Linked DNA regions of Homo sapiens: region 2 is linked to region 1. Evidence: fine-mapped expression QTL. Tissue or cell type: whole blood. Region 1 holds a variant in brackets; the other region holds the start of a gene. All regions are shown on one strand. Distances are between the middles of the regions.

Region 1 (8,103 bases):
GCTGTGTTTCCCTTGCAGAGACAGAAGGGGACACACGCAAACACCATCAGATCTTACCTCAACTGGCGGTGTCTCTCCCAGCAACAGGTTATTAAAAATGGTAGCATAGTCACCATTTAAATTCATCAGTTCCTCATGGGTGCCTCTTTCCGTAATACAGCCCTCTTTCATGAAGATCACTTCATCACAGTCAACCAGGTACTGAAGGCAAAGGCAGAGACAACACAATATGCTGTTTGTGCAAATACATTCAAAAACCCATACATTAGTTCAGTAGTTCTCTACAGGAGACGAGTTAAGCTCCCAGAAGACATTTGGCAGCATCTGGAGACATTTTTTTTTTTGAGGCAGAGTCTTGCTCTGTCGTTCACGCTGGAGCGTGGTGGCGCAATCTCGGTTCACTGCAATCTCCGCCTCCTGGGTTCAAGCGATTCTCCTGCCTCAGCCTCCCGAATAGCTGGGACTACAGGCATGCAGCACCATGTCTGGCTAATTTTTTTGTATTTTTAGTAGAGACGGGGTTTTGCCGTACAGGTAATCCGCCCATCTCGGCCTCCCAAAGTGCTGGGATTACAGGCCTGAGCCACCGCGCCCAGCTGGAGACATTTTTGGTTGTCACAACTCGGGGGAGAGGTACACAGATGCTCCTCAATTTACAATGGGCTTACATCCTGATAAACCCAACGTAAATTGAAAATATCAGAGCTTAGCCTAGCCTACCTTAAACATGCTCAGAACCCTTACATTAGCCTACAGTTGGGCAAAATCATCTAACACAAAGCCTATTTTATAATAAAATGTTTAATATCTCATGCAATTTTTTTCAATACTATGCTGAAAGTGAAAAACAGAATGGTTGTGTGGAAACCATCATAAAGTCAAAAAACTGTAAGTTGAACCGTAAGCCAGCGACTGTCTCTACTGGTATCTAGTGGCTAGAGGCCAGGGGTGCACAAAGCAGCCCCACACAACAATGGACTATCTGGTCCAAAACATCAGTGGTGCCAACACTGAGAACCCCACTTCAGTGTATTGTGCCTCGTGACATAGTATAAGGAGCAGTTCCTCCAGTTTTTTTCTTTTTTTTTTTTTTTTGTGACAGAGTCTTGCTCTTGTTGCCCAGGCCGGAGTGCAATGATGCAATCGCAGCTCACTTTAACCTCCACCTCCTGGGTTCAAGGGATTCTCCTGCCTCGGCCTCCTGAGTAGCTGGGATTGCAGGCACGTGCCACCATGCCTGGATAATTTTTGTATTTTTAGTAGAGATGGGGTTTCACCAGTTGGTCTCGAACTCCTGACCTCAGGTGATCCGCCAGCCTCAGCCTCCCAAAGTGCAGGGATTACAGGCGTGAGCCACTGTGCCTGGCCGAGTCCCTCCGGTTTTTCACATGAATCTGCTGATGGAGCCACATGAGCCCTGCATTAAATTTACACCCTTTCACTGCACTCACAAATATACATAATTATGACTTTCTTTGGCAGAATGGAGGGTTTGCCCCCTAAACGTGACAACATATGTGAGCCAGATGGCAACATCCTTGAGCTGCTCTCCAAAGTGCCTGCTTATGATGGAATGGCAGAGGGAGAAAAGCTTGTTTTCCCAAAACAGTTCCCACTTGCATAGAGATGTTAACACAATGCTTTCCAAACTATCTTATACCCAAACTCCATTTTTGGCCTGCTCCTCTCAGCCCTTTTACTTGCTGATCTATATGCAGAAGCTGATATGCTCCAAGGATCTCTGATTTAGATGGCCATCTGTTACACTGGTACAGTGAGCTTTATTGGTACAGGGGGCTAATTTGCTAAGAAAATGAAACCTTGATTCCAGGAATTTCTAGTTATAACACAAGGATACCTGGAGCAAACCTACCTCCCTGTTTCTGATTTCCCAAACTCAGGCAGGCAGCCGAGGGAAGAAAGAACCATACCTGTAACTGGTGGGTAACAAACAGAACTGTCTTGGACTTGAGATGTTTCCGGATAGCACTATTGAAGATGTGGTTGCCCACATGGGCATCTAAGGCACTGAGGGGGTCGTCCAGGATGTAGATGCTCCTGTCACTATACAAGGCCCGGGCAAGGCTGATCCTCTGGCGCTGCCCACCGCTCAGGTTGGCTCCTCGCTCTCCAATCTACAAGAGCCCAGAAGTGTGGTGAAGCCTCCAGCGCAAGTCCAGAACAGCGTGGAGGGGTCACCCAGTCACTTCTCTTCTTGCCCACCCAGACCAGCTCCTTCTGTCAATTCCCCGCAGATGAACTGCCATGCTGATTCCCCGCAGATGAACTGCCATGCTGATCCTTCAACGAAGTGGGGGAGTTGGCCCAGATGCCTCTTCCTCTACCACTGCCATCTGGGTACCGATCAATCCTACATCTGGTCTTGCCAGTCCACCCGGATGCTCCCCCTCCAATCCATTCTCCACATGGCAGGAAGATCTTTCCAGAACACAAAGCTGACCATCTCCCACCCTTGCTTAAAATTCTTCAAGAGCCTCAAAGGATAAACCTTGAGTATCCAAACATGGCATACAAACCAGACCCTTTGTCACCCAGTTCCCCAGCAGTTCTCAGCCTCCAGTGCACAATCCCCCTTCCACATCCTGGGACCTAAGCCATTTGAAATTATGTGTATACTATGAACATGACAATGTCATGTGCTTGCCTCTACTTTGTCTGCTCAGTTCTGGCATCATCTCCTCTGAAATCTCCCCCAACCTCTTTCCCGCTAGTACCCCAAAGAGATGGGGCTCTTTTCATCAGATTATTTTGTGCCTATTTGTTTGGGTATCTCATCCTCTTAACTGTACACTTCTTTACGTGCAGATTATTGTCTTATTCCTTTATATTCTTAGTGCCAAACAGTGTCTGCACATGTCACTGGCACATAATAAACACCTAATAAATGTTACTAAATGATTAAATGAATAAATCAGTTGTCAAATATTCAATTAATTCAGAGGTTTTCAAACTGGAAGTTGCATCAGAATTACCTGCAGGGTTTGTTAAAACAGACCTTTGCGCCCCACCCCTAGAGTTTCTGATTCAGTAGGTCTGGAGAACAGCCTAAGAATTTGTGTTTCTAACAAGTTCCCAGATGATGCTGATGCTGATGCTGCTGATCTGGGGACATGGATTTAAGGACCTCTAAAGTAATTAAACCATTCACCAAATCTGGTTTGAGGGATTTAACTGAAATCAGCTAAATAAAGGTGCCAATCCCAGAGACCTTCAGGGCAATTCATGGGAGACAAGTTTTAACACTGAAGAGCACAAATTAGTTCCAAAGACAAGCCTCTGGAAACTGCTGCAGGGCAGAGACCCAAAGAAATGTGGATTTGTTCTAAGGGCTCTTTCTAATAGAAAAGGGCTCTCTACAGACTATCTGAGTTAAGGAGGTTGGCAAAATCAAGTTCAAGGAAGATGCTCAACATGCACACGCTTACTTGTAGTTTTAAAAATATCTGGATAGAATAAAAAACATCAACTCTGAGTCAACAATGGGATTTTGTTTACAATCCCCAAGACACAGAAAATACTTACAACCTTAAAACAAGCAGTGTTAACATCCCTGCCCTAATGGACACATGCTTTCCTAACACAAAGGCCTAATGACAGCCTAACTCCCTGTGAGGCTCTTCTCCCAAGCATTTCAGTTGCACTCCCAGGAGCAGCTCTGGCCCAGCTCTGCCACTCTGCTAAATGCCTGGTCAGGGGCGGAAGGCCTGTACCTCCGTCAGGTCGCTGCTGGGAAGAATGGCCAGGTCAGGCCTCAGGCAGCAGCTGTTCAGCACAGAGTTGTATCTGGAGGACACAAAGAGACAGCGTCAGGGACACGGCGGGAGCAGAGCCTGCTGACTAGGGCTGCCTTGCATCTCACGCGGCCAAGATGGAAAGCATGACAGAAGCCAAACATTCCTTGCCTTTCTTCATCATATTCCTTCCCAAACAGGATGTTGTCTCTCAGAGTAGCATTGAGGATCCAGGCCTGCTGGGCCACATAAGCGAAGGTTCCACTGATTGCAATGCTGCCCTCTAGAAGCGTCATCTAGGGAGAGAGACACCATCCAATGGCATCATAACTCAAAACCATCACCCTATGCCAACGGAACCCCCACCTTCCACAATGGAATCTAGCTCTGGTAATTTCCCGGGATGCTTTTTGGACCCAAATCCAGATTCCACCTTTAATTCCAAAGAGAGCTAAGCAGCAAAGAAAATCAAAGTTCTCCTTGCTTATGTGTGATGGGAGCTCAGCATAACCCATAACTTGAAGGCAAACACTTCCCTCTGCAGCCCATTTGCTGTGTGCAAACTGTTTAAATTAGGAGAAGCACAAGCAAGAGGTTCTTGCAGAATTCTCCTGGAGAGGATGCTGTAGGGGTTTCCAGCTAATCCCTGCCTCAACATGGGGGCAGGCCAACTCATCCAAGGCAATTACCTAGGATGCTGGCTAGACCAGTTGCTTCTATGAAATGAGGACCAAGGGAAAAAAAAAGTCCAGGTTAGACATCACCTAGTATTTATAATATATACACAGTGTCCATTTACCAATGATGGACCTTGCCTGCCCACAAGCAGTGATGAACCATGTGCTTTGAAGTTTGTGTTCAGTTGCAATGGTTTGATATGAATTGACTTATCCATTTTACCCCCTTCCATGATTTCTTTTGTTTGGGACTGATAGTAGACATTTGTCTTGGTTTAGGGATGCTACAGCTTTGAAGCAAAGTTTCACTAACCAGCCTGTGCAGTACTTGTTCATATAAGCTGGTCTTCTCAAACACCCTCACACAGCGTGTACACACACAGGTGTACCTACGTACACCACAAACTGGTAGCATTCTGATGTGCACTTCAAAGGGTTCAGAAGTCCCCAGGGGGTCTACTGTGGAAAGCC[G/A]GCACTTCTGGCTGCTGCACAAACACCGCACATTGCAGCGCTATCAACAGATGTAAACTACAGTTAAAGCAGGGCTGACCAGCCCAACCCGTTTCCCTGCCAGAGACAGGGTTGCCAGGATTTGTCCAGAAGCAAAGCCTGACTTGGTTTTCAACCTAACCACTGCCTAGTCAACCCTGGAAAAAGGAGCACATTGCTAGATGGCAGAGCAGCACTTACGAATTGACCTTTTCTTTCCTTCTCCCCCTCCCCCCATCTCTGTCTCTCCTCACTGGCCCTCCAAATCTGGTTGGTCATCATAAATCACCTAGGAAGTCTGGTGCTTTTTACAAGACCAATGGCTGGGCCCAGCCACTGGAGAGTGTCATAAAGCAGAAGGTGGAGGTGATGCCTGCCATGATCTGACTCAGACAGCCCCAGGCACCACCACCCTCAAGGAGGACCACAACTCACCAACTGTGACAGCTGATGCCAAACAAGACAAGAAAGCATTCCATAATCTGGGGGCTACAAAAGCACCCCTGCTCCCCCTCTGTTTCATTTCAATTCAGTGGACCTTATCCATCAGGGTGTAGAGATAATCATAAGTTTATGCTCATCTCAACCATCTAAGTCAAGTTAATTTAATTCTAATGTAAAAGCATGTGGGCACCTTGTTTTTTTTTTTTTTCTGGATTGTTTGATTCTAAAACACAGCAATGATAGTGTGTCTCAGTGGGATGACTCCGGCCCCATCCTGTCCCTCACTCTCAGCACTGGCCACCGTGTGCTGGGCCCTGCACGCTGTTCACTCCCTGCCTGGAGATGTGCTTGTTGTGTTCTCAAGGCCTTGCTCCCCACTGGACCATGAACTCCCCAAGGGCATGACTCTTTCAGGGATTAGGCAGAAAACAGAGGGGCTTTGCTTCTAGATCAAACCCTGACAGTCCTGTCTGACAGAGAGGCTGGGAGTGCTGGCCGCCCTGCTTCTTTACAGGTTAACTCTGTTGGCAGCGCTGCAGTGTAGGGTGTCTGCTCATCTCTTATCTCTGACATTTTCAATACACGGGCATACCTGTGGCACTCAATAGATACATGCTGAATGAAAGAAGGCATGAGACCAAATGGTTCCAGCTGGGACAACAGTCAGTCATCCATCAGGCGCCCACCAGGCCTCCTTCCAGGCAGAAGGCTGTGAAGGGGGAGAACTGGGGGGAACTGCGGGGGATTGGGGGCATACAATGCAGGCTGAGGGTTCATTTGTTTCCACCTTTCCTGACTCTCCAGGAAATTTGTTCGTTTTTCCTGAGACTCTTGCAAACCAGAGAAAGCAGCAGAAAAGGACAATAACAAAAATCTTACCTGGCCTAAAATGGCTGAAATGAGAGAGGTTTTTCCACTTCCCACACTGCCACAGATTCCAACCAGTTTACCCTGGACAAGGCACACAGAGAGGAGGGTCATTTAGAGACTACTAACCACTCATCGCTAAGGACTTGAGGAAAAACACATTAACTGTAGTCTACCCATACAGAACTGTCACCCTGATGACTCAGCAGGCCACTTACCTGTTTTCTCACTCATTAGCTGCCTATCTCATGGGTTTCTGTGGAGACACCTGAGATAACAGGAATGGAAGCCCTTTGGGGAAAGTAAATATGCCGCACACATTCCAGTATCCCACCGTCATTCTTAGGCCCAGCCTCTTTCCTATTCTGCTGCTAACCCATGTTCTTCATTTACTTGTTTTTGTCATTTTTTAGAAGACAGGGTAGGGCTTTTAAAAATCATTTTATTATTATTATTATTATTTTGAGATGGAGTCTTGCTCTGTCAACCAGGCTGGAGTACAGTGGTGCGATCTTGGCTCACTGCAGCTTCCGCTTCCGGGTTCAAGCAATTCTCCTGTTGGGGTTACAGGCATGCACCACTACACCCAGCTAATTTTTATATTTTTAGTAGAGACAGGGTTTCGCCATGTTGGTCACGCTCGTCTCAAACTCCTGGCCTCAAGTGATCCACCCACCTCGGCCTCCCAAAGTGCTGGGATTACAGGCATGAGCCACCACGCCTGGCCACCCATATTCTTTATTTACTTGTTTTTGTTGTTTGCCAGAAGAGAGGGCAGGACTCTTAAAAATCATTTTATTATGATTTTTCTCCAGGGTGTATACATAATTAATTTTCAATAAAAACCATGGACACTGTTGCATGCAAAACATTTCCAAAAATCTGAGGAATATTTATACCATCAATCCCACAAAAAAGTAGAACACCAAGTCTATGATTAACTGAGTATCCTTAGGCAAGATAAAGAGTTCTCAAAGTGGTGTTGAAAGTTTTCAAGGGACAGACAGATGACTTCAAAAGGGTCACTTGTTTACAACCCCGTGCCAGTTCAAGTGTCCCCAGGAAGGAAGGGAGAGTGGTAGTGTGGACGGAGCATGGATTCTGGAGGCAGATGGGTCTTTATCTAAATCCCAACTTCACTAGCACTTGCTAACTGTGTGATCCAGGCCCCGTGACTTAACCTAATACTGTGTCTGTCTCCTTCTTTGGACTCTGAGCACCTTGAGGAAAGGCAGTATCCTCATAAAACTAAGTACAGTGTCTGATAGTTGAACAAATAGTTTTTGACATGGTCCACGAGTACTGAATGGTTTACTGCCTGGTGGCAACAAGGAGGTCAAGTCACAGGTTCAACCTCTGCTCAGGCCAGTTAGATTTACATGAGAAAAATGCTATTCTTATGATTAAATGATGACTAAATGAGACATCAAAAATGAGAAAAATGCCTGGTGCACAGAAGACACTTGGCAAACATTACCTCCCCTTCTCTTCCCTAAAGCAAAGGCCCAGGGAGAATTAAGGCATCTCTCTTCAAATGGCTAAAGGTCTCCCATTGTCTGTGGGCTCTGAAGGGCAAAATGAGGGTCAACATACAAAGCAAAAGAATACATTTTAGCTGCACGTGTGGAATCATTTTCTAATAGAGCTGATAGCAATGTATTAGAGCTGCCTCAATAATCAAGCTAATAGTTACTAAATAAAAAGCCTGTTAGGCGTTAACTGAAGTAAGGCCAGATGCAGCAGCTCACGCCTATAATCCCCACACTTTGAAAGGCCAGGCAGGCAGACCACCTGAGGTGAGGAGTTCGAGACCAGCCTGGCCAACATGGTGAAACCCCGTCTCTACTAAAAATACAAAAATTAGCCAGGCACAG
Region 2 (8,097 bases), 270 kb before region 1:
AGGCGGATCACGAGGTCAAGAGATTGAGACCATCCTGGCCAACATGGTGAAACCCCGTCTCTATTAAAAATATATTTTAAAAATTAGCTGGGCGTGGTGGCGCGCGCCTGTAGTCCCAGCTACTCGGGAGGCTGAGGCAGAAGAATCGCTTGAACCCAGGAGGCGGAGGTTGCAGTGAGCCGAGATCACACCATTGCACTCCAGCCTGGGCGACAGAGCGAGACACCATCTCAAAAAATAAATAAATAAAATAAAATAAAGTAGGAATGATAATAATAAAGTTGTTACAAAGATTAAATTTGTGAAGTGCTTGGAGCACTGCCTGGTAAGTAGTGTTATTAATAGCTAATATCCAATTATAACAATGTATGGGCTGGGAGCGGTGGCTCACGCCTGTAATCTCAGCACTTTGGGAGGCCGAGGTGGGCGGATCACCTGAGGTCAGGAGTTCAAGACCAGCCTGGCCAACATGGTGAAACCCCTTCTCTATTAAAAATACAAAAATTAGCCGGATGTGGTGGCATGCGCCTGTAATCCCAGCTACTCGAGAGGCTGAAGCAGGAGAATTGCTTGAACCTGGGAGACAGAGGTTGCGGTGAGCCGAGATCGTGCCACTGCACTCCAGCCTGGGTTACAGAGCAAGACTTCATCCCCCCAAAAATAACAATAAAATAAAAAATAACAACGTATGGCCAGGTTACCACAGTTTCTGATTTTCCATAGAAGCAGAAATTCAGGGTATTATGTGAAATTTGTCAGTGTTTGAAATGTTGGCTCATTTAAAACAAAATGTGACATCTGTAGGCTGTGACTACGCAATCTCTCTGAACTGTACTCTTTCATGGCAACCTCACCAGTGTTCATTAACTACCTGTTGACAACAGTACGTTGACAGTGCCACCCATCAGGTCTCTTCTGAGCCCCAAAGCCTTATGTACAGATTTAATATCTTCAGGGCTAGGTGTGGTGGCTCATGCCTGTAATCCCAGCACTTTGGGAGGCCAAGGCAGGTGGATCACCTGAGGTCAGGAGTTCGAGACCAGCCTGGCCAACATGGTAAAACCCCGTCTCTACTAAAAATATGAAAATTAGCCGGGTGTGGTAATACACGCCTGTAATCCCAGATACTTGGGAGGCTGAGGCATGAGAATCGCTAGAGCCCGGGAGGCAGAGGTGGCAGTGAGCCAAGATCGCACCACTGCACTCCAGCCTCGGCAACAGAGCGAGACTCTGTCTCAAAAAAAAAAAAAAAAAAAAAAAGTATTCGAGTGGATGCCTCAAACTTAAAATGCCCCAAAGGGAATTCTTGATTCTCCCACCCCCAACATTCAAATCTGTTCTTCCTTTAGTCTCCCTCCTTTCAGGAAATGACACCATCATCCACCATCAGCCACTGCTGGAAACGTATGAGCCAACCCCAGTTCTCCCTCCAGGCCCACCTCCAGTGGCTGTGCAGGTGAGTGCTGCCTAAGGGAGCCTGGCTAGCCAGGAGCCTAAAACCAGCCTCTAAACACTTGCCAAGCTCCAGAGCAGAGCTGAGTCTGCCTGGAGGAAGGGGCAGTTTATCTAAGAGGCCATTTTGACTTAGCAGAGGCCAGTCCCCTTCCCTTCTCTCCCCAGTCTCCTCCCAGTTCATCGTCATCAAGTCTTCTGGTATTTTCTCCATAGTTCTTGTATCTATCTCCTTCCCACCATCTCCACTGCCAGGGTAAGCCATCCTCATTTTTTTTTTTTTTTTGAGATGGAGTTTCCCTTTTATTGCCCAGACTGGAGTGCAATGGCACGATCTTGGCTCACTGCAACCTCTGCCTCCTGGGCTCAAGCGATTCTCCTGTCTCAGTCTCCCGAGTAACTGGGATTACAAGCCACCACGACCAGCTAATTTTTTTGTATTTTTAGTAGAAACGGGATTTCACCATATTGGTCAAGCTGGTCTTGAATTCTTGACCTCAGGTGATCTGCCCATCTCCGTCTCCCAAAGTGCTGGGATTACAGGTGTGAGCCACCACGACCAGTGCCACCCTCAATTTTTGCTTGGATGACTGAAATTGCTTTCCAACTGTCTCACTGCTTCTATGTTCACACACCTCTTCAGTCATTCCCCACCTACTCATTGGGGCAAATGATTTTTTTTTTTTTTGAGACGGAGTCTCACTCTGTCACCTAGGCTGGAGAGCAGTGGCATGATCTCGGCTCACTGCAACCTCCACCTCCCAGGTTCAAGCCTCCAGAGTAGCTGGGATTACAGACATGTGTCACCACGCCCAGCTAATTTTTGCATTTTTTTTTTTTTAGTAGAGATGGGGTTTCACCATGTTGGCCAGGCTGGTTTCGAACTCCCGACCTCAGGTGATCCACCCACCTTGGCCTCCCAAAATGCTGGGATTACAGGCGCGAGCCACCGCGCCCAGCTGCAAGTGATGTTTTTAAAAGGGCAAATAGGCTGGGTGTGGTGTCTCACGCCTGTAATCCCAGCACTTTGGGAGGCTGAGGCGGGCAGATTACGAGATGAGGAGATCGAGACCATTCTGGCTAACGCAGTGAAACCCCGTCTCTACTAAAAATACAGAAAATTAGCCGGGCATGGTGGCACGCGCCTGTAGTCCCAGCTACTCGGGAGGGTGAGGCAGGAGAATCACTTAAACCCAGGAGGCGGAGGTTGCAGTGAGCCAAGATCATACCACTGCACTCCAGCCTGGGCAATAGAGCAAGACTCAGTCTCAAAAGAAAAAAAAAAAGTTTCATTTTGGTGAATATTTGGGTAAACAGTTCAAAGTTGTAGTCTTATCAGAACTTTACCCTTCTTCCCCTTGACTTCCCAAGGCGGCCTACAGGATACAGGGGAAGCCTCAAGGCAGCGGTGGGAGGGGAGATCTGTGTGCGGGATTTCAAGCTATAGCCTGGGTTCTCACTGGCCTCTGCTGCTATGTCTCTGGTGACTTCTGGTCTCCACTGCCCTGCAGGCATCAGCTGCTGAGGTGGTTGGTTGGCAAGCTCATGACCTGTTGCTTTAGCACCTTCAGAGTTTGATGTCTCATCTTTCATCCCCACTCCTCCATCCCCGCTCCTCTCACCAGCTGACTTAGGGGTGCTTCAGCTCCACTGGTATCTTCAGTACTGCCTATCCTTGGGGTCTTAGCTACGTTCTGTAGCCATTCCCTGGCCATCAGCCCACCACAAGGCCTCTGCTTTAGGAAACCTGCCCCCTGGCACAGTGCCTATTGGTCTGTCCATGGCTCTTAACCATGCTACTTTCTGCATGCCAGGCAGGGAGCAACAAGAGAAGTCTGGAATTCTGACATACCTAAATGTGCAAGCTGCAGCGCTCCAGCAGCACTATTGCAGACTCCTCCCAACGCCATGGCCTGCTCCCAAGCCCTACTGTGTGAGCCTTCTCACAGACTTGGACAGCCTTCCAAGCTACACCAAGGGAAGTCAGCTTCTAGCTTTCTTGGCACTTATCTGGGTATTTCTATGCTTTCCACCTCACTGTTAAACCCTAAGAGTAGGGGAACACCAACACACTCATCCTGACCTGTGACCTCACCCCCTTCTCCATGAAATTTGTTTATCTCCCCAGTTCCTATTATCTCTTGAGTCTTAGCTTAAGGTTCAAGGAAGCCTTTCTTAGTTTTTTTTTTTTTTGAGATGGAGTTTCACTTTTGTTGCCCATGTTGGAGTGCAATGGCTCACTGCAACCTCCACCTCCCGAGTTCAAGTGACTGTCCTGCCTCAGCTTCCCAAGTAGTTAGGATTACAGGCATGCCCAAATACACCTGGCTAATTTTTGTATTTTTAGTAGAGACGGGGTTTCACCATGTTGGCCAGGTTGGTCTTGAACTCCTGACCTCAGGTGATCCGCCCGCCTCAGCCTCCCAAAGTGCTGGGATTACAGGCATGAGCCACCGTGCCCAGCCAGGAGGATCTCTCGAGCCCGGAAGTGTGAGACTAGCTGTGGTGATAGTGAGACCTGTCTAAAAAAACCAAAATTAGCCTGGGGGTGGTGGTTCACGCCTGTAATCCCAGCACTTTGGGAGGCTGAGGCGGGTGGATCACCTAAGGTCAGGAGTTCGAGAGCAGCCTGGCCAACATGGTGAAACCCTGTCTCTACTAAAAATACAAAAATCAGCCAGGCGTGGTGGCGCGCGCCTTGTAATCCCAGCTACTTGGGAGGCTGAGGCAGGAGAATCGCTTGAACCCGGGAGGCGGAGGCTGCAGTGAGCCAAGATCATGCCACTGCACTCCAGCCTGGCAACAGAGGGAGACTCTATCTCAAAAAAAAAAAAAAACACAAAAAACAAAACACCACTTATATTTATTATGCGTTGATAAAAACATTAAATACATTAAAAATTTGGTAACATGTATGTAAAGTATAAAAAAAAAAGTGAACTTCCTAAACCCACCACTCAGCTCCAGTAGTAAATCGTTATACAGTGAGAAGGGATTGAAGGGGAACAGAAGTTCCCCAAGACCAGTTGGGAGGCTATTCATAGTCTTGGGCAGAGAGATTACAGGGTCTTGGGTAGGGTGGTAGAGTTACAACGAAAGAGAATGTTGGCCTCAAGTGATATTTAGGTGGAAAACTGGACTTGGATTGTCACTAGCTAGTGTGACTGAGATAAGTCTCAAGCCTTCCCTGCCTCAGTTTCTTCATCTGTAAAATGGGCTAGAAATAACTACTGTTATTTTGTATACCCAGCACTTAGCACATGGGTTGGCACAAAGATGGCACACACAAACATCATAGTCACTATTGTGATTAATAGGGAAGCTCATACACGCCGGCAGAATGAATATTCTGTCAAACTTGGGGTTGAAATTCGCCATCTTCTGGGGCAGGAAAGTGATGGACGACTGTGCCTTTGCAAGAATCGACGCCCACACTGCCCAGGAAGTGCCCTCGCGGGCCGGGGTCCCAGCCCGGACCAGCCCCGCCCCGCCCCGCCCCGCCCTCATCCCTGGGAGCTCCGCCCCGAGGCCGCGCGCGCCGCCGCGCGCGCCCCGACGCGCCCAGCTGCTGACGTGCGGGGCGGAACGCGCCGGGCGGGCTCCACCGCGCCGTGTGCTTCCGCAGGTTGCGGGGGTCGCTGGGGCCTTGTGGCGGGGCAGCTCCGCGGGGCTTCGCCCGCTCTCTCACCTCGCCGTGCTCTCTCGCGGCGGCCGGCGGGGCCCGCGCTGCAGCCGGAGACCCGGAGAAAGGGTGAGTGTTGGCGGGCGCAGGAAGGGACCGGCCGGGAGCGCGCCCCGCTCTCCGGGGCATTGTTTGGGCGGGGGCGGCGCGGGCACGTGCGCGCCCCTCCCCCATCGGCAGGCAGCGCGGCAGCGGGACCCGGTGAGGCCCCGGGGCCGAGGGGAGGGCAGGGAGGATCCCAGGTGCGGGCCGGGGAGCCGCAGAAGCGGGAGCCTGGAATTGGAACGTGAGTTGGGGGCTTCCTCTTCAGCGGGGCGCTGCGCTGAGGGGATACGGGACCCCGAGCCACAGCGGCCGGAGCTTTTAGGATGTTAAGCTCTTGGCCTTGGAGGCAAGATTTGGCCCCAGCACCAGAAAGTCGTGGGTTTACCGAAAGGATCCTGGAATGCCCCTCCAACCTGTCGCCATCCCCACCGGGCCTCCCTGGGATGGAGGGGAGGGGTCAGAGAGGCTTTGGGGGTCCAGGGATGGGGCCGGGGCCAACGCGCCGGAGCTGCGGGCAGTGCGGGGCGGAGTGGAAGCCTCGGAAAGTGAGGACTCCTGCAGGAAAGGCTGGCTTGAAGGGCTGTGGCCAGACTGCAGAAGACAATGAGGTTTTCTCCATCATGAATGTGATTATGTTAAGAAATAGAAACCAGAGGAAGAGAAATGCCATCAGCAATCTTACAGGCCTGACACATCATTTTTTTTTAGTTTGATGTTGGCTAGTATTTTCATCTAAGCATTCAGCAGTTACAGAGTTGACCCACGTTTTCCATTCCCTTTTCTCGCTCACATGTAAAAAATGCGGTATAATATTATATAGAATTCAGCAATATCATTTCCCCTTTCTTAATGAGTAGAGGGTATTCAGCGTAGAAAAATTTAAAAATACAAGCAAAGCCAGAGAAAAATGCCCGCAGTTTTACGATCTAGAGATACTACCCTTGGATGTATATTCCTGTTTGTGTATACTCTTTAAAAGATAGGGCAGATGATGCCCTGATAAGGAGTTTAGTTTTTCCCGGGAAGCCTTTGAAGGTTTTGAGAAGGCGAGTAGCATGATCCGACTGCTATGTAGAGGAAGAGGGCTGGGGAGGAACCTACGAGGTCAGTTACTGTGCTCTTTGCAGTAGCTTGGACTAGGCCCGTGGCAGGGAGATGGGGAAGTATAAACAGATTTTTAAATGTTTTAAGGTAGAATGAACAAGACTTGGATTGGTGAGGGAATGGTGGGAATCTTTGCTTTTTTGATTTTTGTTTTGAGCAACTGAGTAGGTGGTGGTGCTGTTTACTGAGATGAAGAATGGAAGAGAGAAATTTGAGGTGGGAAAAACGAATTCTATTTTAGATGTATTAAATTTTAGATGCATGTTAGTTATGAAGTCGGTGTGTTGAGGCAGTTGGATGTAGAGGGCTGGAACTCAAGGAGGAGAGAGGCTAGAGCTAGAGATAAAAATCTGGGAGTGGCTGGGCGCGGTGCTCACACCTGAAATCCCAGCACTTTGAGAGACCGAGGCGGGTCGCTTGAGCCCAGATATTCTAGACCAGCCTTGGCTACAAGGCAGGAAGGACCCCGTCTCTTAAAAAAAAAAAAAATTGGGAGTGATCTGTACGTAGATGATATTCAAAGGTATGGTGCTGTGTGAGATCACTGAGGGGAAAGAGTGTGGAGAAGTGAAAAGGGCGCAGACACTCAAATACCTCTAGGTCTGGTAGAGGAAGAAGGTTGGGGAAAGGACGCAGGAAACAGCAAGTGAGGTAGGAGAAAAAGCTCCTACCAAAATGGCATGTATCATGGCAGCCAAAAGAGGTGTTTCTGGAAGATGTTGAATTGGTCCTTTTATCAGGGCTTCTGAGATGTTCATTAAGATTGTCAATTGAATTTGGCAACACGGTGGTTATTGGTTTTGGTCATTGGTCTTCCTGTCCATAGTTCTGGAAGTGGGAGGTGGGAACCGGATGTGAGGAAATGAAACTAATGAGTGCAAATTAGAAAAAAAGTGCCCCATTTCCATCTGCCCCAAAACTAAACTTAATCGATGAAAAATGGTGTCTTGTGTTTTTTTCATTTATTGATTACTAGTATGTTTGAACATTTTTTTCCCATTTATTGGCTGTTTGTGAATTTCTTTTCCTGTTCTCTGTCATCTTTTGTTATTTCCTAATTGATTGTCAAAAGTTCTTTAGATATTAAAAATAGGTAGCTTGACATACAGCATGCAGAGTTCTCCCCACATGTTTCTCAGTTTCAAATGCTTCATGTTCATTCAGTGGATGCATGATATTTTACTGTGGGTTATTTTTTATTATAAAATCCATAGGAAGAAGAGAATTAACATTTAGGTTGTAGATCTCTGAGTGTAGCCCACATACGATGTACATTACCCTGTATTTTCTTAGAATAGATTCTCAGAAATAGTTGGTCCTGTCCTCTTCTCATCAACTACGGATTTTTATTTGAATGTTCATTGCCACGTTCTTGGATTGTTCCCTATCTCCCTGCCTTTGGTCCTGCTCTGCTTTCAGTCTGTTTTCTGTCGTGATACCCAGTAGATGGTGGGAGTTGATGCAGTTTTCTCACAGAAAACAAGACTTGTGAAGCAGATTTTTTCTTTTTCTTTTCTTTTCTTTCTTTTTTTTTTTTTTTTTTGAGACAGAATCACAGTCTGTTGCCCAGGCCTGTAATCCCAGCTGCTCGGGAGGCTGAGGCAGGGGAATTGCTTGAACCCGGGAGGTGGAGGTTGCAGTGAACGGAGATCGCGCCACTGCACTCCAGCCTGGGCGACAGAGGGAGACTTCGTCTCAAAAAAAAAAAAAAAAAAAAAAGGCAGATACAAAAAGCCACGTGCTGTATGATTCTATTTATACGAAATGTCCAGAAACAGGCAAGTTTATCCACACAAAAAGTAGTTGCCAGGGGG

What was found. PIP is the estimated chance that this variant, and not a neighbour inherited with it, causes the effect.
Region 2: it holds the start of YEATS2, and the variant in region 1 is fine-mapped to the expression of YEATS2 in whole blood (TOPMed, PIP above 0.99).

The regions. Positions count from the first base shown.
Region 1 is chr3:183,961,454-183,969,556 of GRCh38, forward strand. It overlaps ABCC5 (ATP binding cassette subfamily C member 5), which reads right to left. Exons shown (of 30, transcript NM_005688.4): 12 at 6,242-6,313; 13 at 3,924-4,048; 14 at 3,732-3,804; 15 at 1,932-2,135; 16 at 58-201. Among named protein-coding and RNA genes, the nearest start is that of ABCC5-AS1, 41 kb to the right of the region's middle. The variant G/A (reference allele first, on the strand shown) is at 4,901.
Region 2 is chr3:183,692,791-183,700,887 of GRCh38, forward strand. YEATS2 (YEATS domain containing 2) reads left to right here and starts at 5,007. Exons shown (of 31, transcript NM_018023.5): 1 at 5,007-5,203. RefSeq lists a silencer at 4,912-5,381.